Regions from separate parts of the Homo sapiens genome. Here all the other regions are linked to region 2. Evidence: fine-mapped expression QTL. A gene starts in region 2. Each other region holds a variant in brackets. All regions are shown on one strand. Distances are between the middles of the regions. Region 1 overlaps HPS3 (HPS3 biogenesis of lysosomal organelles complex 2 subunit 1). Region 2 holds the start of HLTF (helicase like transcription factor). Region 3 has its middle 24 kb from the start of GYG1. Region 4 overlaps GYG1 (glycogenin 1).

Region 1 (4,000 bases), 53 kb before region 2:
CAGTCTGTCATGCCTTCTCCATGGCTTCTCCTAGCAGGTATGACTTCCCTTTCTAGTACTCATAGGTATTTGCTAAGGATTTTGGGCCGGGTGTGGTGGCTCACACCTGTAATCCCAGCACTTTGGGAGGCCGAGGTGGGCGGATCAATGAGGTCGGGAGTTCGAGACCAGCCTGACCAACATGGAGAAACCCCATCTCTACTAAAAATACAAAATTAGCTGGGCGTGGTGGGGCATTCCTGTAATCCCAGCTACTCGGGAGTCTGAGGCAGGAGAATCACTTGAACCCGGGAGGTGGAGGTTGCAGTGAGCCAAGATCATACCATTGCACTCCAGCCTGGACAACAAGAGCAAAACTCTGTCTCAAGAAAAAAAATAATAAATAATAATAAAATAGAGGTCGGGTGTGGTGGCTCATGCCTGTAATCCTAGCACTTTGGGAGGCCAACACAGGCAGATCACAAAGTCAGGAGATCGAGACCATCCTGCCCAACATGGTGAAACCCCGTCTCTGCTAAAAATACAAAAAAATTTAGCCGGGCTTGGTGGCGGGCGCCTGTAGTCCCAGCTACTCGGGAGGCTGAGGCAGGAGAATCACTTGAACCCAGGAAGTAGAAGTTGCAGTGAGCCGAGATCGCACCACTGCACTCCAGACTGGCAATAAAGCGAGACTCAGTCTCAAAAAAAAAAAAAAAAAAAAACAAAAAAAAAAACTTTGTTAAAGGGCCACAAGGAGACTCCAGTGGAAGAACCAAACCACCAAACCTATTACCCACATGGGTCTTCACTCCCAGCCCAGACAGAGCATTTTCACCTTGCTGCACTGTCGCACTCCTGCACTGTCATGCTTACCGGTCTGGTAAATGGGTAGCAGCTGGAGGGAATGTAGCTTGATGTCATCAGACAAGACATAGGACGAAATATCAGGAGCAAAACGTCTGTGGGTTTAAAAAGACAGAGAAAGGGAAAAATATAACTTCCATGTACTTTAAGCAGGCATATATACATAAAATGCTGGTAAAAAAAAAAAAAGCACTATAATACCTATAGAGCAGGTGCTGAAAGTGGGAATATTTTCTTTTTTCATCAGCTAATCCCGTAGACTCCAGTGTAACAGATAATCCAGACTGTTCACTTTTTTCACCAAGAAGTTCCAGGGGCTTCTGGCAGATGACAAAATCATCTGACTCAAGCTGTGAAATTTCATTACTGATGCCTTAAAAAAATAAAATGTAACAGTCCTGCTTGAATGAAAATTAGATTTTACAACATCCTCTCACCAATTAGACATATAGTAATTTCATTTATTTATAATATGCACACATTTACAAGGCACTGTGGTTGTGAAAAGACTTAGCACTTGCTCATTTAATCTCCACAACTGATAAAGTACAACAGGGTAGGTATTATCATCCCCATTTTACAAATGAGGATGTTGAAACTCAGAGATGGTATTATTAACCCAAGGTCATTCAACTAGTAACTATGAGGACTAGGACTAGAAGCCCCTCATCTAGCAGTGGTTGTTCCATTACTTCTACTGATAAATATATTCACATGCTACAGAGTAAGCTATGGACAGCCAGATCATAAAACCAAATCCCATGAAATAGGAATAACTAAATCTATAAATAACATGGCCGGGCACCATATATACCACAGACCTTCAGACTGCCAAAGGTGAAGGTTTTCTATATTCCTAAAACAAGAAAGCAAGTCAAATTCATTATTTACCTTCTTCTGTCCGTCTTATTCGATTGTTGGTCTTATGTGGATGGTGGTGAACTCTCTCTCCATTTTTAGGGCCTGACTCCAGTTTTACGATTAAGACTTCTAAGTCTGACATGACAGCAACATATCCAACACAAAAAGAAACCTCAACAGGAGTGATATTATCTATGTGTATAATTAAAGAACGTTCAAAGTCCAATAGTGAGAATTCCTCATTAATGATCTGGTACTTCAAACTAAATAAGACTAATTTATTTGTGCAGCCAACGAGAAGGTCTCCTTTCACAGGGCAACAGGAAATGCACAAGGGGGCCTCCGAAAGCGGCATTTCAATAATGTACATCTGGTCTCTGAAGGCTTTGCTGAATGGTCCCTCCACATTATGCCCAATCATTCGGATACACACACGAGAGTTTTCAGTCCTTTTATTTCTCCAGTTCACATAAGCACGTAGAAATGTAGCTTTGTTTTTCTCTTCAATTGCTACCAAATAATCTCCTGAGAAGGAATGAAGATTATACTGAGAATTTGTAATTAGAAATACAACCACCTCCCTTGCTGACATGAGTACTAT[T/G]AATGAATTCTAACACAAATGGTCGAATTAAAGACTGAATAGAATAAAACCCTAAGTAACAAAATCTTAGGTGTATTTTTGACTGACATTAGGCTTTGAGGTTCTGAAATGCAATCTCTCCCATCTGAGTGTCTTAAGACAACCTATTAATTGCCCATGTAACATACAGAAAGTTCATATAAGGAATAAAATGTAAAATTAAGTGTTTACTGTAGCTCTAAATCTGCAGTTCTAACAAAGCTCTACTGACACAGAATTCACTATTAGGGTGACACCAAAATTAGGTATACATTAAGGAATTCTCAGATTAGCAGAATTTACATTTCAAACCCTCTCCTTCCCACAAGTCACAAGTCTGAGAAACAGGATAAAGTTGGAAATAGCAAAGAAAATACAGATCCAAGTTAATTTTCTCTAAATTGTTGATTGTATAAGTTTTAACTTATAAACATATATTGGTTGTGGGAAGTCAAAATGGTAACGTGGTAAAGAGATGCAAAATGAAAAGCATAATGATCTCCCCCTTGAGGACCCAATGTTAACACACAGCCTGGTATGTGCCTTTCAACACCTTTCTCTCATATAAACAGAGATCACAGAGAGGTATTCTGTCTTTTTTAAAAATGAACAAAAACTAAAATGTAATCATATTAAATATATTTAACAATCTGCAACTTTTAAAAATTATTAATAAATCTCTCCCTCCAGGCTGATACATGGATATCTAACATCCTTTTCAATATGTTCAACATCCCATATGTACATACATACGCATAATTTATTCAATAATTCCCTTACTGATAAGCATTCAAATATATTTCCAGGGTTTTTTGCCACTATGTTTCATAGTAATACATAGGCTTATATCTATATATTTATTTACTGGGGGATTTATTTTAACGGTACAGATTCCCAAAAGTGAGATATGTTGGGCCAAAGGGCATGGGCATTTTAAATTTCAATATTGCCCAATTACTATCAATTAGATAATAGAAATTCATGTTACCAGCAGCAGTGCTTAAACACACCTGTTTCCCCACATCCTCACTAGCACTGACTCTACACAATGAGAGAAACATGGACTCTCACGGCTATTATAATTTACATTTCCTAGACCTTTTTATAAAGCTGGCCATCTTTTCCTACGTTTATCAGCCATGTATAGTTTCTCTTCTGCATGATGTCCAATTTTTATTAAGTTGTTCATTTGTTTTTCTTATCATGACACTGTAGCTCTCTACTTAAAAGGGATATAAACCTTTTGTCGTCTATAAATAGTAAATGGTTTTAGAGTCTATTTTCTGATTTTGACTTTGCTGATGGCATGTTTTACCATACCCTTTTTATTTAGAGTATACTATATGTATCTTTTCCTCCTTGCCTTCTGAGTTCCCATCCATGTCCTCCAAATTACATAAATATGCTCCTATATTTTCTTCTATTTTAGTGGAGGTTTAGAAAATATACATTTTTAATCTTTAGAATTTTGCGGGTAAAGAAGGAGATAAGTCAGAGGATCTAATGTCACTTCTTCCAAATGTAGACTCTATTATATTAACACTATTAAGCAAATTGGCCCTTTTCCGATGAATTGAAATTGAAATGCTGCCATTACATTGACTTCCCATGTACTTATGAGGCAAGCAAACAGGTGCTGCCCCTTTCTGCAGACATTCACTGGGCTGACCAGGCTCC
Region 2 (4,840 bases):
CCTGGCCCTTATCTTCCCCACCGTCCTTTTAGTGCCACTTTCCTTCTTACTCACCAGCCAAACCCCACAAGCCACCCTACAGTTCATTTTCCAGTTACAAGTGTTCATTTTTCATATCTACTTGTGATGCTGTTATCAGAATAAATCAAGAAAAAACCAAAAAAGTTAATTTTTCAGAAAACATTATTTAGTATAATAGTTTTGAAATTGTAATTGCTGTAACATTTTAATCAAACTAGTACAAATTGTACTTGATCTTTAAATATAAAACAAAGAATGATTAAGGGAAAGAATGTTTTACTCCTGGTTCTGGGATGTGAAATATTGATAACATAGAGAAAACATACTGTGGGAGGAAGAGCCACATATGCCATTCTTGGATTTCAGGCTCACTGAATCAAACAGGGGAGTGACATGACATGATTAATTTGCATAAAGGTTCTGTGTGTGTGTGTGTGTGTGTGTGTGTGTGCGCGCGCGCGGGCATGTGTGTGTGTGTGGCTGGGGGTGCAGATGAGAAGTGTGTTTGTGACTGGGAAGTGGCTGGATGGAGAAATTTTGGATTCCTTTCCTTTCCATACCATTCCTTTAAATAGCAAATTTTAGTTCATTCAAAGCACATTCTTTAACCATGGGACAGTCATTATTCATAGATCTTAAGTCTTTTTATTTTTTTGAGATGGAGTCTCGCTCTGTTGCTCAGGCTGGAGTGCAGTGGCTTGATCTCGGCTCACTGCAACCCATGTCTCCCTGGTTCAAGCGATTCTCCTGCCTCAGCCTCCCAAGTAGCTAGGACTACAGGTGCGTGCCACCACGTCTGCTTAATTTTTGTATTTTCTTAGTAGAGTCAGGCTTTCACCATGTTGGCCAGGCTGGTCTCGAACTCCTGACCTCAGGTGATCCACCCAACTCGGCCTCCCAAAGTGCTGGGATTATAGGTGTGAGCCATTGCGCCTGGCCAGTCTTAAGTCTGAAAGAGCTATGTTCTCATATTTGGAATTTTTTCTTTGTCTAGTGAGCATGACTTTCTTACTCTTACAAAACATCAATTTGAGCAATTTCTGGCATATTTTCCAAGAATTTATTTAAAATCTGGCATACTAAAAGCTGAACTGTATTGCCATTTGCCTCAACACACTTCAAGAAGAACATACAACAATTAAAATAATTTGAAATGCCATTGTCTTTATCTTCCTCATCAACTTTGGTCAAATGAAATAATACATTGTTTCAAATTCTATTGCTCATCCATGGTTCATGATTAGAGATCACTACAGTTTATTTACGATAATGAACAAATGTGTCTTGAAAAGCTGACTACCGGCCTGGCACGGTGGCTCATGCCTGTAATCCCAGCACTCTGGGAGGCCGAGGCGGGCGGATCACCTGAGGTCAGGAGTTCAAGACCAGCCTGGCCAATATGGTGAAACCCCGTCTCTACTAAAAATACAAAAATTAGCTGGGCGTGGTGGCGGGCTCCTGCAATCCCGGCTACTCCGGAGGCTGAGGCAGGAGAATCGCTTGAATCCGGGAGGCGGAGGTTGCAGTGAGCCAAGATCACCCCCATTGCACTCCAGCCTGGGGGACAGAGCAAGACTCCATCTCAATAAAAAAGAAAAAAAAACAAAAAAAAGAAAAAAGAAAAGCTGACCACCTAATATTATTGTGCTGACAGGCGTGTAACATGGACCTCTCTGTGACGCGCAAGTATTATCTGGCAGTTACATGGTGCCGCCTGTGCAGCTGGGCGCCACCACCAGCTTCCTGCCCTGTGCGATTAAAAGGCCAGCTTCGGGGACAGCAGCCTCCTCAACGCAAAGCGACCAGCCCTGCCAGGCGTCGGCTGCAGCTGGTCCAAGGTTGACGGTCCCAGGGCCGCATTCTCCTTCCGGTCACCTCAGACTCTGGAAAGAGAGCCATGGAGGGCCTCAGAGCGCCCCTCTGCAGTTCCTTGAGGAAAACAAGGGCCTCCCCCTCTTGGCTGGAGCAGCCAAGTGCCCACGGGGAAAATGGTCCCGTCCACCATTTCAGGCAAACGCCCCCATAGCTGTAATAAACATGTGATGGGTTTCCTGCACCAAGAAAGGAAAATTTTCCTTAAAAATAACAAAAAGAGGTGGGGAGGGGACTCTAAGTTCCATTTAAGATTTTCCAAACTCGTTGTGTCTCATGCATACGCTGAGGCTTAACATGAAAATTTGGAGCGAAAGTCCCCACGGTTCACCACAGGGAATGAAGTAAAGTATCTCGCCGGTAGCTCTAGGTCTCGTAAACCGTGGAGCTCCTTTAGTATAAGGCCCTATTATGTGCCACATTAGATGAGAAGAAAATAAGAGGAAGGATACGGTAGAGCCTTTAGAATGGGGTTCAGTCTTAGGACTCGTAGGATAAAGGAAGGTCGTTTCCCTCCGTTTGAGGCAGGGAATCAAACAAAACACCGGCACCGCAGGCACCGCAGTCGCACTCCTGGGGCCTCGTGGCTTTCCCGCGCGCCCGCCTTGGGGGCGGGGAAGAACCCGGATGGAACCACCCTTGCAGCCCGGACCCCCCGCCGTCTTTGAATGGCAGCGGGGCGGAGTTGCCCTCCCTTCTGTGCTCTGACTGGTTTGGCTCCGCACTCTCCTCTTCGTGATTGGGCTTTCCTAGTGCCAGTCACAGAGCGACGCTGGTCTCCCAGATTGTTGCAGAAGGAGACGGCGTCGACGTCTGACTGGACTCGCGGCGACTTACCTTTCAGTCGTGCGCTCCTGATCCGGCGCTCGGAATTTGTCCCCGGCTTCAGGGCTGCGGGGCCTGGAAGGAGGCGTATCGAGGCGGCTCGAAAACGATCCAGGGGAGCCGAGGCGCTCCTCTTGTCATCCCACTCAGCGCCATGTCCTGGATGTTCAAGAGGTGAAGGGGGCGGAGGGGGTGGGGCGCTCGGTCTAACGGCCTGGAGGCGTCCCCAAATGAACCTGACCTTCCCCGCGTTCCTCTGCGTTCCCTGGGCGATTTGTGCAGCTGTATTCGTTCTGTTGGTCGCATATGTGGCCGCCGGAGAAATAAATGCATTGTCTTCGCTGGCGAGTAGGGGCTCCTAGGGCGAGTCCCGTGTTAGGGACTTGGGAAATCTCTGTCACCGACTGTGGGGGGCCTGGGGCTTAAAGCATCTCGGCCAGTGCTTTATTTAACAAAACATCCATTAGATACCCACTGTGCGCCAGGCATTGTGCTCGGTGGAGGGCCGAGTAAGACAGTCCTTGTCCCCAAGTGGCTCACAGCTTATCTGTATGCACAGACGTGCAGATAAGTATTTGCAGAGGCGCTAGTAGAGATATGCGCCACTTGCAAGGAAAACGCATCGCAAATAAGCGACTGTTCTTAGGAGAATGGAAACTTTTTGCAATGCTCCAGTAGACTCCCCTTCACTTTTCATTGTCCAAATTGGTATTTATGGTCATTCCCGAAACAGTTACACCTAATGGGTTTGGGGTTATGCTTAAACCGGCGACGGAAGGCGGGTACGGGTGGCTTGGGGCCAATTTCCCACGGTGGCGTGGTTTGGATACCAGAATAGGTGTTCTGCTCGCAGGGAGTTACAGTGATGGATGCTGGATGTATTTTCTGGAAAATTATAAACAACTTCTGGTACATTAATAGTTGTATTTTTATAAGTCTTTTATATAGCTCAATCCCTATTGAAATTTTGGCATATGATTTCATTTTTTAAATTATTTTTTTGACATGGAGTCTCGCTCTGTCGTCCAGGCTGGAGTGCAGTGGCACAATCTCGGCTCGCTGCAACCTACGCCTCCCGGGTTCAAGTGATTCTCCTGCCTCAGCCTCCCGAGTAGCTGGGATTACATATGGGCGCCACCACGCCTGGCTAATTTTTGTATTTGTAGTAGACAGGGTTTCACAATGTTGGCCAGGTTGGTCTCAAATTCCTGACCTCAGGTGATCCACCTGCCTCTGCCTCCCAAAGTGCTGGGATTCCAGGCGTGAGCCACCGCATCCGGCCCATAATTGTAGTTACAGACATCATATACATATCAATTTAGATGATTTTCACTGGGAAAGAGGTTAGTGAACTCTGACTAGGCTTTTCATTTTGAATACCTAGGGGGCAGGTAGAAGAGCCAATATTGAAAACAGGTAGAGTTCCTAGAAGCCTTCTCCACTCACTGCAATTCCTGCTTTAACGAGAGTAACTATTAATCTTTACCGTGATTCCCATGTAAGATTTCATTTGCTGAAGTAAAGCATGAGAAAACTACTCATATGGTCTTTGGAAATACTTAAATATTATATTGTTTTTCTTTGCCTTTAAAAAAAAATAGGGATCCAGTTTGGAAGTACTTGCAGACTGTCCAGTATGGAGTTCATGGAAATTTTCCACGCCTCTCATATCCAACTTTCTTTCCACGTTTTGAATTCCAAGATGTTATCCCTCCAGATGACTTTCTAACTAGTGATGAAGAAGTAGATTCCGTTTTATTTGGAAGTTTGAGAGGTCATGTGGTTGGACTACGCTATTACACGGGAGTAGTGAGTATAATAGTAGATAATTAAATTTTGATTATATTTCTGGCGTTAACCTAGAAAATAAGAGAATTCGCAGGTGATGTGTGCGGTTAATCTTTATTTTACTTTAAGTTAGTTAAATATTTGTACGCAAAAAATAACAAATACCTTAAGTGACCCTCCCACCTCAGCCTCCCAGAGTGTTGGGATTACAGGAATGAGCCAATATGCTTGGCCTCAGTGCGTTATGTTTGGTTATTATGGGTAGCACCCCACCCCCACACCCCAGCGCCTTGTTCATGTCATCGATTTGTTGCAAAAAGGAGATCGTTTTGTG
Region 3 (4,840 bases), 120 kb after region 2:
TGTGGTACATTTACAACTTCTACAACTGCCACGTCAAATGTTCTGAGCTTTGACCTAATCAGTCCCACTAACTCCTTTAGATGTTCAGGTTTCTCAAAGGTATTCAAATCCCTGAAGCTGCCATTTGAGGTCTTTCAAGACAGGTGTTAAAAAATATATGACTTCTTTTTTTAATCATTAGGTTATTAAATAAGTTTACCAAAATATTGCTATAAGTCCATGTTTTTGTTGCTTTTTTTTTAATTGAGGGGGGCTGTTAGTAGCTTTTTTTATTTTTTTTTATTGAGGAGAGAGGAGCTATTTTCAAAGGGATCAAATTTGGGTGGAGTGAATGTAGAGTTGTTAGATCTATAGAATTGTCCAGATAGTGGCATCTACTAAGAAACATGAATAAGAATATGTTAGTTTCTTTTCTAAAATCTTAATAAGGGGGCCAATGTTACTTCTCTCTACTTCAGAAGTTTCAAAATAGGCCTTGGAAAAAATGTATTTATAAAAAGATTCAGATTTAAGGTTCAGAACAAACATAAGCTTAAACTAGTATATGTATGTGTTGAAGGTAACAATCAATAAAGCACAAATGAATGAACAATTTGATTTATTTGTGTTCCGTATATGTCTCTCTGTGGCAATATGACAGTCGAATCTCTGTAAAGGACTTTGGTTTCTAGATCTTAATCATTCAAGGCAAAATGAATATAATTTTACTTTGAGACTTCTATAAAGGGAAAAGGATTAACATGATATTTTAAAAGAAAATGTTTTACCGCATAATTTTGCAATGGATTTCTAAGACTCTTTGTGAAATTATGTGTTAATTCTATATATATTACATTGTAGCTAGAGGAATGCCAATGTCTTCATGCTGAGATTATTTGGTAGGGTTTGGGCTTATCTTTGTAGTAAAAATCAAATGTGGACTGTATTGAGACAGAAATTTGAGACTTAACCTGTTCTACAGAAATCATTTGCACTTACTAAATCTTCGTAGTTATTTTTCTCTTAAATTTATGTTGTTTTGCCTTTAGGGAGTTGATGGAAAGGCATTGTGAGTGTTTTGTGGATACAGTTAAAATTGTTTCATTAAATGTTAATGGACTTAATAGTCCAGTTAAAAAAAGCCAATATATTAGCCTGTATTAACCACTCAGTGCTGACATGGCTTATGTTCAGGAATTGCATTTGGGCCCATAGAACTGAATATCATATATGAGCATAGGTTAGGAATGGGTTTTGTTCTTTTGCTATAAGGAAATAACCATTTGGTTTATAAATGACTCCAAATTTTAACAAAACAGCTATTTCAGATGCAACCAATAGGTTTATTTTGGCCCAAAGAAAGATTCAGACATCTATGTGAACATTAGGAATGCAGCATGGCTCACTGGACTCAATAACAGACTAGAACTTGAGTTACATAAAATTCTGTAATATGCCTCTTTCTTTAGCACCTTTGCTATTAACGGGCTGTCAATGCTATTGGGAGGAATTAGTAATTTTACAATATTTTGCAAATGCACGAGGGATATTTGCTGATTTTTTTTTGGAATGGGAACTGTAAATAGGAAATATGTCTCTTGAAAAATGCATTTGTTCTTAGCTGATGTAAGAGATTTAAAATTATGCCATTTCCTCTTGATTAGATGAGAATAAGTGTTTTGTTTTTTGTTTCTTTGCAGTTTGGAGCAGTTAAAAGTACACTGTGTAGAAACAGCAAGGAAAGTAGGCTCAGCTTAGCCAGAGATTCCATATGGCCTCCCTTATTCTTGTCTTCAGGAATCACCAAATCATGTGTCTTTAGATACATTTTCATCAAGTCTTTTGAAATCAAACAACACTCATTTTAAAATAATCTTTTAAACATTTAGAAATATGAATATGTCATGCCTTCTCAACACATCAACCATATGTGGTTATGAACCATTTGGATTATATGTACAGCAAGAACATGATAATAGAAGAGAGTCTCCATTTCCTCCTTCTACTTTATAAAACGATGAGGAATTCAACAATGAGATCACAGAGGGTACAAAATAAATGCTTAGGCTGGGTGCAGTGGCTCAAGCCTGCAACCCTAGCACTTTGGGAGGCCAAGGTGGGCAGATTGCTTGAGCTTAGGAGTTGAAGACCAGCCTGGGCAACATAGCGAGACCCCCATATCTTAAAAAAAAAAAAAATTAGCCGAGGGGTGGTGGCATGGTGGTGTGGTGACACACTCCACACTCCTCTAGTCTCAGCTATTTGAGGATTGGTTGATCCCAGGAGGTTGAGGCTGCAGTGAACTGTGTTTGCACCACTGCATTCCAGCCTGGGTGGGAATGTAAGACCCTGTCTTAAAAAAAGAAAAAAGGACAGAAAAGCTTAAAGAATTTTCATTCATTCAACAAGTACTTTTTTATTTGTTTTGTTTTTGTTTTTTGAGACGGAGTTTTGCTCTTGTTGCCCAGGCTGGAGTGCAATGGCGCGATCTCAGCTCACCGCAACCTCCGCCTCCTGGGTTCAAGCAATTCTGCTGCCTCAGCCCCCAGCCCCGAGTAGCTGGGATTACAGGCGCCCACCACCACACCCAGCTAATTTTGTATTTTTAGTAGAGA[C/T]GGGGTTTCTCCATGTTGGTCAGGCTGGTCTCGAACTCCCAACCTCAGGTGATCCACCCACCTTGGCCTCCCGAAGTGCTGGAATTATAGGCGTGAGCCACCATGCCTGGCTCAACAAGTACTTTTTCGACCACTGTTTTGTTTTTCCACCAAAAGAAATTTAAAATCTGCACAAAAGTCTCTAACCATCTTTAGCTGTAACAATTCTAGCATGAAAGATATAGATTTGATTTAAAGAACTCAGTATAAACAATATTAAAAAAAAATGATAACAGAAATGGCTGGGGTAGCCACAGAGGAAAACAGGAGACTAATCTACGTGACCTTGAGGAAACAACTGAATTTTCTCGGCCTTAGTGTCTTCAGCCAATAAGAATGAATGGAGAGGCTCTTCCGCCTTGCAATTCTGTGGATCATAACAGATCATTAGTGATAATTATTCTAGTACAATAGGGAAGATTGACACTCTGGGGCCTCCCAGTGTCATGAAGTTTTCTAACATTCTCTCTTGTCTTTGGATGCTTTGAGTGTGTTATCTCATTATATAATGTTTGAGCTTTGAAAGCTGCTAGGCACTTTATTGATGAATGCAAAGCATATTTATTGAAAGAGCACATTTCTTTAGAATCCCTGGAACAAGTTTTGTTTGTTTGTTTGAGGTAGAGTCTCACTCTGTCACCCAGGCTGGAGTGCAATGGTGCAATGCAACCTCAGCTCACTGCAACCTCCGCCTCCTGGATTCAAGCGATTTTCCCACCTTCGCCTCCTGAGTAGATGGGACTATAGGTGCATGCCACCACGCTGGGCTTATTTTTGTATTTTTAGTAGAGATGGGCTTTGCCATGTTGGCTGGGCTGGTCTTGAATTCCTGACCTCAAGTGATCCACCCACCTCAGCCTCCCAACTCCTGACCTCAAGTGATCCGCCTGCCTCAGCCTGCCAAAGTGCTGGGATTACAGGCGTGAGCCACCGCCCCCCGCCCCCTGGACAAGGTTTTATGCTCAAGTCTTCACTTTGAATTTCTTTTATAGACAAATGGGGGCACTCAGGAAGCTAACAGGAAGAATGTAAGATACAACTAAAAGCTAGCTGAGGCAAGCCTGCATGGACTTTCATCCGTCTGTTGAATTTTGTGCAACTAGGTTATCTTTGGGAAATCACAATGAAGTTATTGCCTTCAAGACCTCAGAAGGGTCAGCTCTTCAAGAGTACTTATGTGTTAACTCAATAATTTTATCAATATCCAAAACCATAAAGTCAATCAGTCGTGGGGAAACTACAGAACACAGAAATAGCTAACATCTATTTTCTACTATTTCTAGGTACCATTGTAAGCATTTTACATGTATTAACTCATTTAATCATCATAGCAATTCTCAAGTAGGTACTATTATCATTCTTGTTTCATGGTTGTGGAAATCAAGCCACAGAGAAGTTAAATGATTTGCCTAAAGTCACTTAAATTATAAATGGCAGAACTGGGATTTGAACTTTTGCAGTCTGACTTCAGCCCATGCTATGTCCACAATATTACGGTTACCTCCCAACATGGCGAGTGATTTGCCATATTTACAGTGAAAAACATCAGCTGCTAAGTAATGAGAGCTTTCATCCAGTGTTGAAGCCAAGCACCACCCAGCTGGAGGTAGGGCCAGCTTTAGCCTTTAGGCTCAATAGGCCAGGATCTAAGGCCCATGATATTTTCAGGGACCTAAGAAAATATCTTTTAAAATCATAAGGAAAAAATGAATATGATCTAGCCTGAATAGTATTTGTCTTTATACCAGCATAGCCATAAAATATTTTATATATTTAGGGAGGAAGTCACCCGTGAAGGCAAAAGTGCCTAGGACCCATGAAAGTCATAACGGGGGCCTGATGGGAGGGTAGAATAGAAGTAGATGGGATAGGGACAAAGTTGTTGCTTGGAGGTCTTTCCAGAGGATCGCTGTGTGGTTGGTCCCTTCCTCCACTCTCCATGCTGGGGTAAAGGCAAGCTGCTGCAGAGCTCATCTTTGGCAAAGCTGCTTAACTCACTATTGGACCTTTGGCTTCTTCCTAGAGCCTCCCACCCCCACCTTCCTTCCTTTGCCACCAAGTGGGTGCTAGCTTTTCTCCTCTTCTTTCATGCCTTGGCTGTGCTGAGGAAGGTTGCAAACATGTTTTGCTGCTAGCCTGAAGGTGGGTTTGGTTTGATCTGTACAGCATCATAGAAAATCAGTCAGTTGTCATCATTTAAAAAAAAA
Region 4 (4,000 bases), 83 kb after region 2:
GCATCTTGACTATGGTGGTAGTCACACCAATCTACCCATGTGATAAAGTTGCATAAAAACCAAAAGTGCATATACATATACACATACACACAGAAAAGGGAATACATATAAAACTGGTGAAATCTGAGTAAGGTTGGTGGATTGGTCCAATGTCAATCTCCTGGTTGGGGCAATACATTTTAGTTATGTAAGGTACTACCATTAGGGGAAAACAGATGAAGCATATGTGGGATCTGTCTGTATTATTTCTTACAACTGCATGGAAATTCTCTCAAAATGAACAGGTTTTTAAAAAACTCTTACAATTAATGTGCAAAATACAATCAGGAATTAGATGCTAAATTCCACAAGAACAGAGATTATGGCCTTTTGCTCACCATTATGATGCTAACATGTAGCAGAATGCCTTACACATAGGCAAATTATTTATGGAATGAATGCAAGAATCTTGAAGATATTCTGTAACAGCAGAAAAATTTAAACGACTTATATTCTACCATACAGGAATGGTTAGTATATTAATACTAACTACTCATGGAATATGATTCAGCAATTAAAACTAATGTCTATAAAGACAACTTCAGTACACTGTGTAATATATACAGCTACATACATTGTGATTATAACTAAGAACATAAACATTAATTAACATTTATATTACAAGAAAGTAAATAAAATAATAGTAATTGCATTAGGGGATTGGTGTAATAGATGTTCCTTCCCCCCTCTTTTTCCTATTATTCTTTTAATGCTAAAATATTAGTAATACAACTGGGGGCAAGAATGAGAACTGTGCTTAGATCTTTTCTTTCTAAATACTCTTTACTTTTAATTTTTATTATGAAGTATACTACCAAAAAAAAAATATATGTGTAGGTTATAAAGGATATTAATAATAAAACTCTACACATTTATCCAATTTGAGAACCTGGACATTATAACACCTTCTTTAACTGAAGCAATTCCACTTAAAATGACTAACAGCTACCCATAATGCAGTAAAGAAATCTAATTCCACAGAGGCCTAAATCGTAGTTGTAAAGTAGAACTTCCAAATCCGACCTGCATGAGCCTGGGAAACAGGAGTCAGAGCTGCTGATCCCTCAAAGTCCCTGGCTGGCTGCCTTTGGCCACAAAAGGCCGTTTCTGTTTACCCTCAGGTACCCTACAAACATCATCAGCCCATCAGCTGTGTGCCACAGGAAGGCTGGGAAGCACGGGGTGTACAGAAAACAAGCAAGGAAGAGAAAAGGCACTGAAGCAGAACTGGTGAATCAACAGTGCCTGTTAAATTGGCAAATCCTGAAACACTCAACAAGAACCTTGGCTCCAGAGGGGACAACACAGGTCATAAAACTTCCAGGGCCACTGACCTCATTATGTGACTACAAAGGTTTATCATTTAGTCCAAAATTGTGGATTAAAAATAAATTAAATGCCATGTAGAAGTCCGTAGCTGAATTTTTAAATTCAGCGGTCTAGAAATCTTAACCACCTTTTCCCAAATGCACAGTTCAACATTTTAAGGTCAGGCAAATGTTTTAACGTCATCAGAAAAATCTATGTATGGTGTTACCAATATCCTCTCTTTAGAAAAATCTTTAAATGATAGGACAGTTCAAAGCAGAATGCAAATCTAGGCACATCTGTATTAGAAAACATACAAGGATGCCCTAAAGACTGCTGATTTTCCATAACAAAAACCCTACAACTTTTGTCCGATACATTTTAGTCAGACTTCTAGAGGCAGCTTTATCTAATCTGACAGGTTAAGATAATTTTAATCTCACTCATCTCAGAGCCAACAAACATGATTAGCAGGCATCACTAGCAGCTGTGATCCGGTACACCAGGGTGTGGTAACACAGGTGAGAGACAGGGAGAAAGGAAATGGAACAAGGGGCACATCGCATCTGTTTTGCGAACAAAAGCAAGTATCTCATTCTGAATCATCCTTCCACCCGGCTGCCCAAATGCAAATGCTGTGTAATCACCTTGCAACTACAGACTTGGTACTTTCTAGGTCTTCTGAGCAGGGTCACATACCTGGTAACCATGGATGCATTTATCAGAAACTGGGCCTATTTGTTTCCTAAGACAGAAACAAGAGTTAAGTGGTGTCTTTTTAAATCTGTGCATTTGTTCAATGCTTGTGTACTTTGCGTGCTCTTCCACAGTTTGCTGGCAGCTGGCTTGTCTACTGTGGATAACAGGGCAGTGAGTTAATTCTGGTTTAGACATGAGCCCCAGCATCTCAGCCAAAGGAATGTTCCCCCTATAATAGTGCTCCTCAAACTGTGGCCCGGGTTCCAGCAGCATGGGCATCACCTGGGAGCTTGACAGAAATGCAAACTGTTGAGCCCCACCCCAGACCTACAGAATCAGAAGCCACATCTTAATCCCTAGGGAATTTGTCTGCATATTAAATTTGAGAAGTACTAGAGTCTTTTGAAGAACGACTTCTTTATTATAACAAAGGATAATAACTTTTAAAAAT[A/G]TCATTTCTATAAAAAATGTCTAACATTTTATAAATTTGGTATTCACATAATAGGAAGATTCAGATAGGTTCCAACTCTCAGATACTTCAAAATCCAAAAAGGGACAGATGGACAAAGTAAATAAAGTAAAAGTCCAGGCACGGTGACTCACACCTGTAATCCCAGCACTTTGGGAGGCCGAGGTGGGTGGATCACCTGAGCTCAGGAGTTCAAGACCAGCCTGGCCAACATGGTGAAACCCCATTTCTACTAAAAACACAAAAATTAGCTGCGCATGGTGGCAGGCACCTGTAATCCCAGCTACTCAGGAGGCTGAGGCAGGAGAATCACTTGAACCCAGGAGGCAGAGGTTGCAGTGAGCCGAGATTGCACCATTGCACTCCAGCCTGGGCAACAACAGTGAAACTCCATCTCAAAAAAAAAAAAAAAAAATTATAGTAAAATATGCTTTATATTGTAATTGAGCTAGAGACAAGGACTGACATGAACATGTGACTCACTTCTATCTATCTATCTATTATTTATTTACAGAGACAGAGTCTTGCTCTGTCACCCAGGCTGGAGTGCAGTGGCGTACCTCAGCTCATTGCCTCTGCTTCCAGGGTTCAAGTGATTCTCCCACCTCAGCCTCCCAAGAAGCTGGGACTACAGGCATGTGCCACCACACCCGGCTAATTTTTGCATTTTTAGTAGAGATGGGGTTTAACCATTTTGGCCAGGCTGGTCTGGAACTCCTGACCTCAAGTGATCCACCTGCCTTGGCCTTCCGAAGTGTTGGAATTACAGGTGTGAGCCACTGCGCCTGGACACTTCTTTTTAAAACTAACTTCCTACAAAATGCTTGGTGGATATAATCATTACTGCCTATAGTGAGCATGCTAAGGATTAATAAATTACAGCTTATGAAAGCCCAGCTCTTGGGGATATTTTTATGAGATTTACTGAGGATCATTAGATTAACCCAAGGTGGCTTATGGAAATCCAGGCACTTGGAGCTTGGGCCCCAGCATCACGGCATCTCACTGGCCTCAACCCATTTAAGCCAAGAATAACTGATTTATTTTACTACTTCATGTTATAGCTTTTGTTTTTCACTACTTTGTTAAAAGATTATTAAGTATCAAGCTATTAATTATTACATACTTGCAAGGAAACATTTATTCTTGGCTTAAATGTCAGTTTCTCAGTCTAAGGCAGGTCCTCCTAGTCTGGACTCTTAGTACTCTGAACTTACTAGAATCATGATTACATAACTGTGTATTAGTTGTTAGATGTCTGTAAGGTCTCAGAATATAAACTTTATAGAGGCAGGAATAAAATCTGTATTATTTACCAGTCTATTTTTGCCCCTTCAATTTAGGATTTTGCCCAGATTAGAAATTAAAATTATGTTTGAAATAATGAATGGACCTACTACAGAAATATAGGTGAGAGGAACCCTTCCAAGAATACATCTAGACTCCATAAAACACTGCAAGACGATGAACTGTGCTGCTGATTTT

What was found. PIP is the estimated chance that this variant, and not a neighbour inherited with it, causes the effect. A credible set is the group of variants that fine-mapping cannot tell apart.
Region 1: its variant is the best candidate, but not a certain one, in a credible set for the expression of HLTF in whole blood (INTERVAL, PIP 0.59).
Region 3: its variant is the best candidate, but not a certain one, in a credible set for the expression of HLTF in subcutaneous fat (GTEx, PIP 0.85).
Region 4: its variant is the best candidate, but not a certain one, in a credible set for the expression of HLTF in lung (TOPMed, PIP 0.51).

Annotation. Positions count from the first base shown.
Region 1 is chr3:149,138,233-149,142,232 of GRCh38, reverse strand. It overlaps HPS3 (HPS3 biogenesis of lysosomal organelles complex 2 subunit 1), which reads right to left. Exons shown (of 17, transcript NM_032383.5): 2 at 1,735-2,229; 3 at 1,045-1,216; 4 at 853-938. Among named protein-coding and RNA genes, the nearest start is that of HPS3, 11 kb to the right of the region's middle. The variant T/G (reference allele first, on the strand shown) is at 2,306.
Region 2 is chr3:149,084,369-149,089,208 of GRCh38, reverse strand. It overlaps HLTF (helicase like transcription factor), which reads left to right and starts at 2,676. Exons shown (of 25, transcript NM_003071.4): 1 at 2,676-2,892; 2 at 4,320-4,527. The coding sequence starts at 2,873. It overlaps HLTF-AS1 (HLTF antisense RNA 1), which reads right to left and starts at 2,877. Exons shown (of 3, transcript NR_046648.1): 1 at 2,731-2,877. RefSeq lists enhancers at 2,314-2,831, 2,717-2,926, 2,832-3,349.
Region 3 is chr3:148,965,479-148,970,318 of GRCh38, reverse strand. No RefSeq gene overlaps it. Among named protein-coding and RNA genes, the nearest start is that of GYG1, 24 kb to the left of the region's middle. The variant C/T (reference allele first, on the strand shown) is at 2,595.
Region 4 is chr3:149,002,045-149,006,044 of GRCh38, reverse strand. The region is part of intron 4 of GYG1 (glycogenin 1); the gene reads right to left. Among named protein-coding and RNA genes, the nearest start is that of GYG1, 13 kb to the right of the region's middle. The variant A/G (reference allele first, on the strand shown) is at 2,498.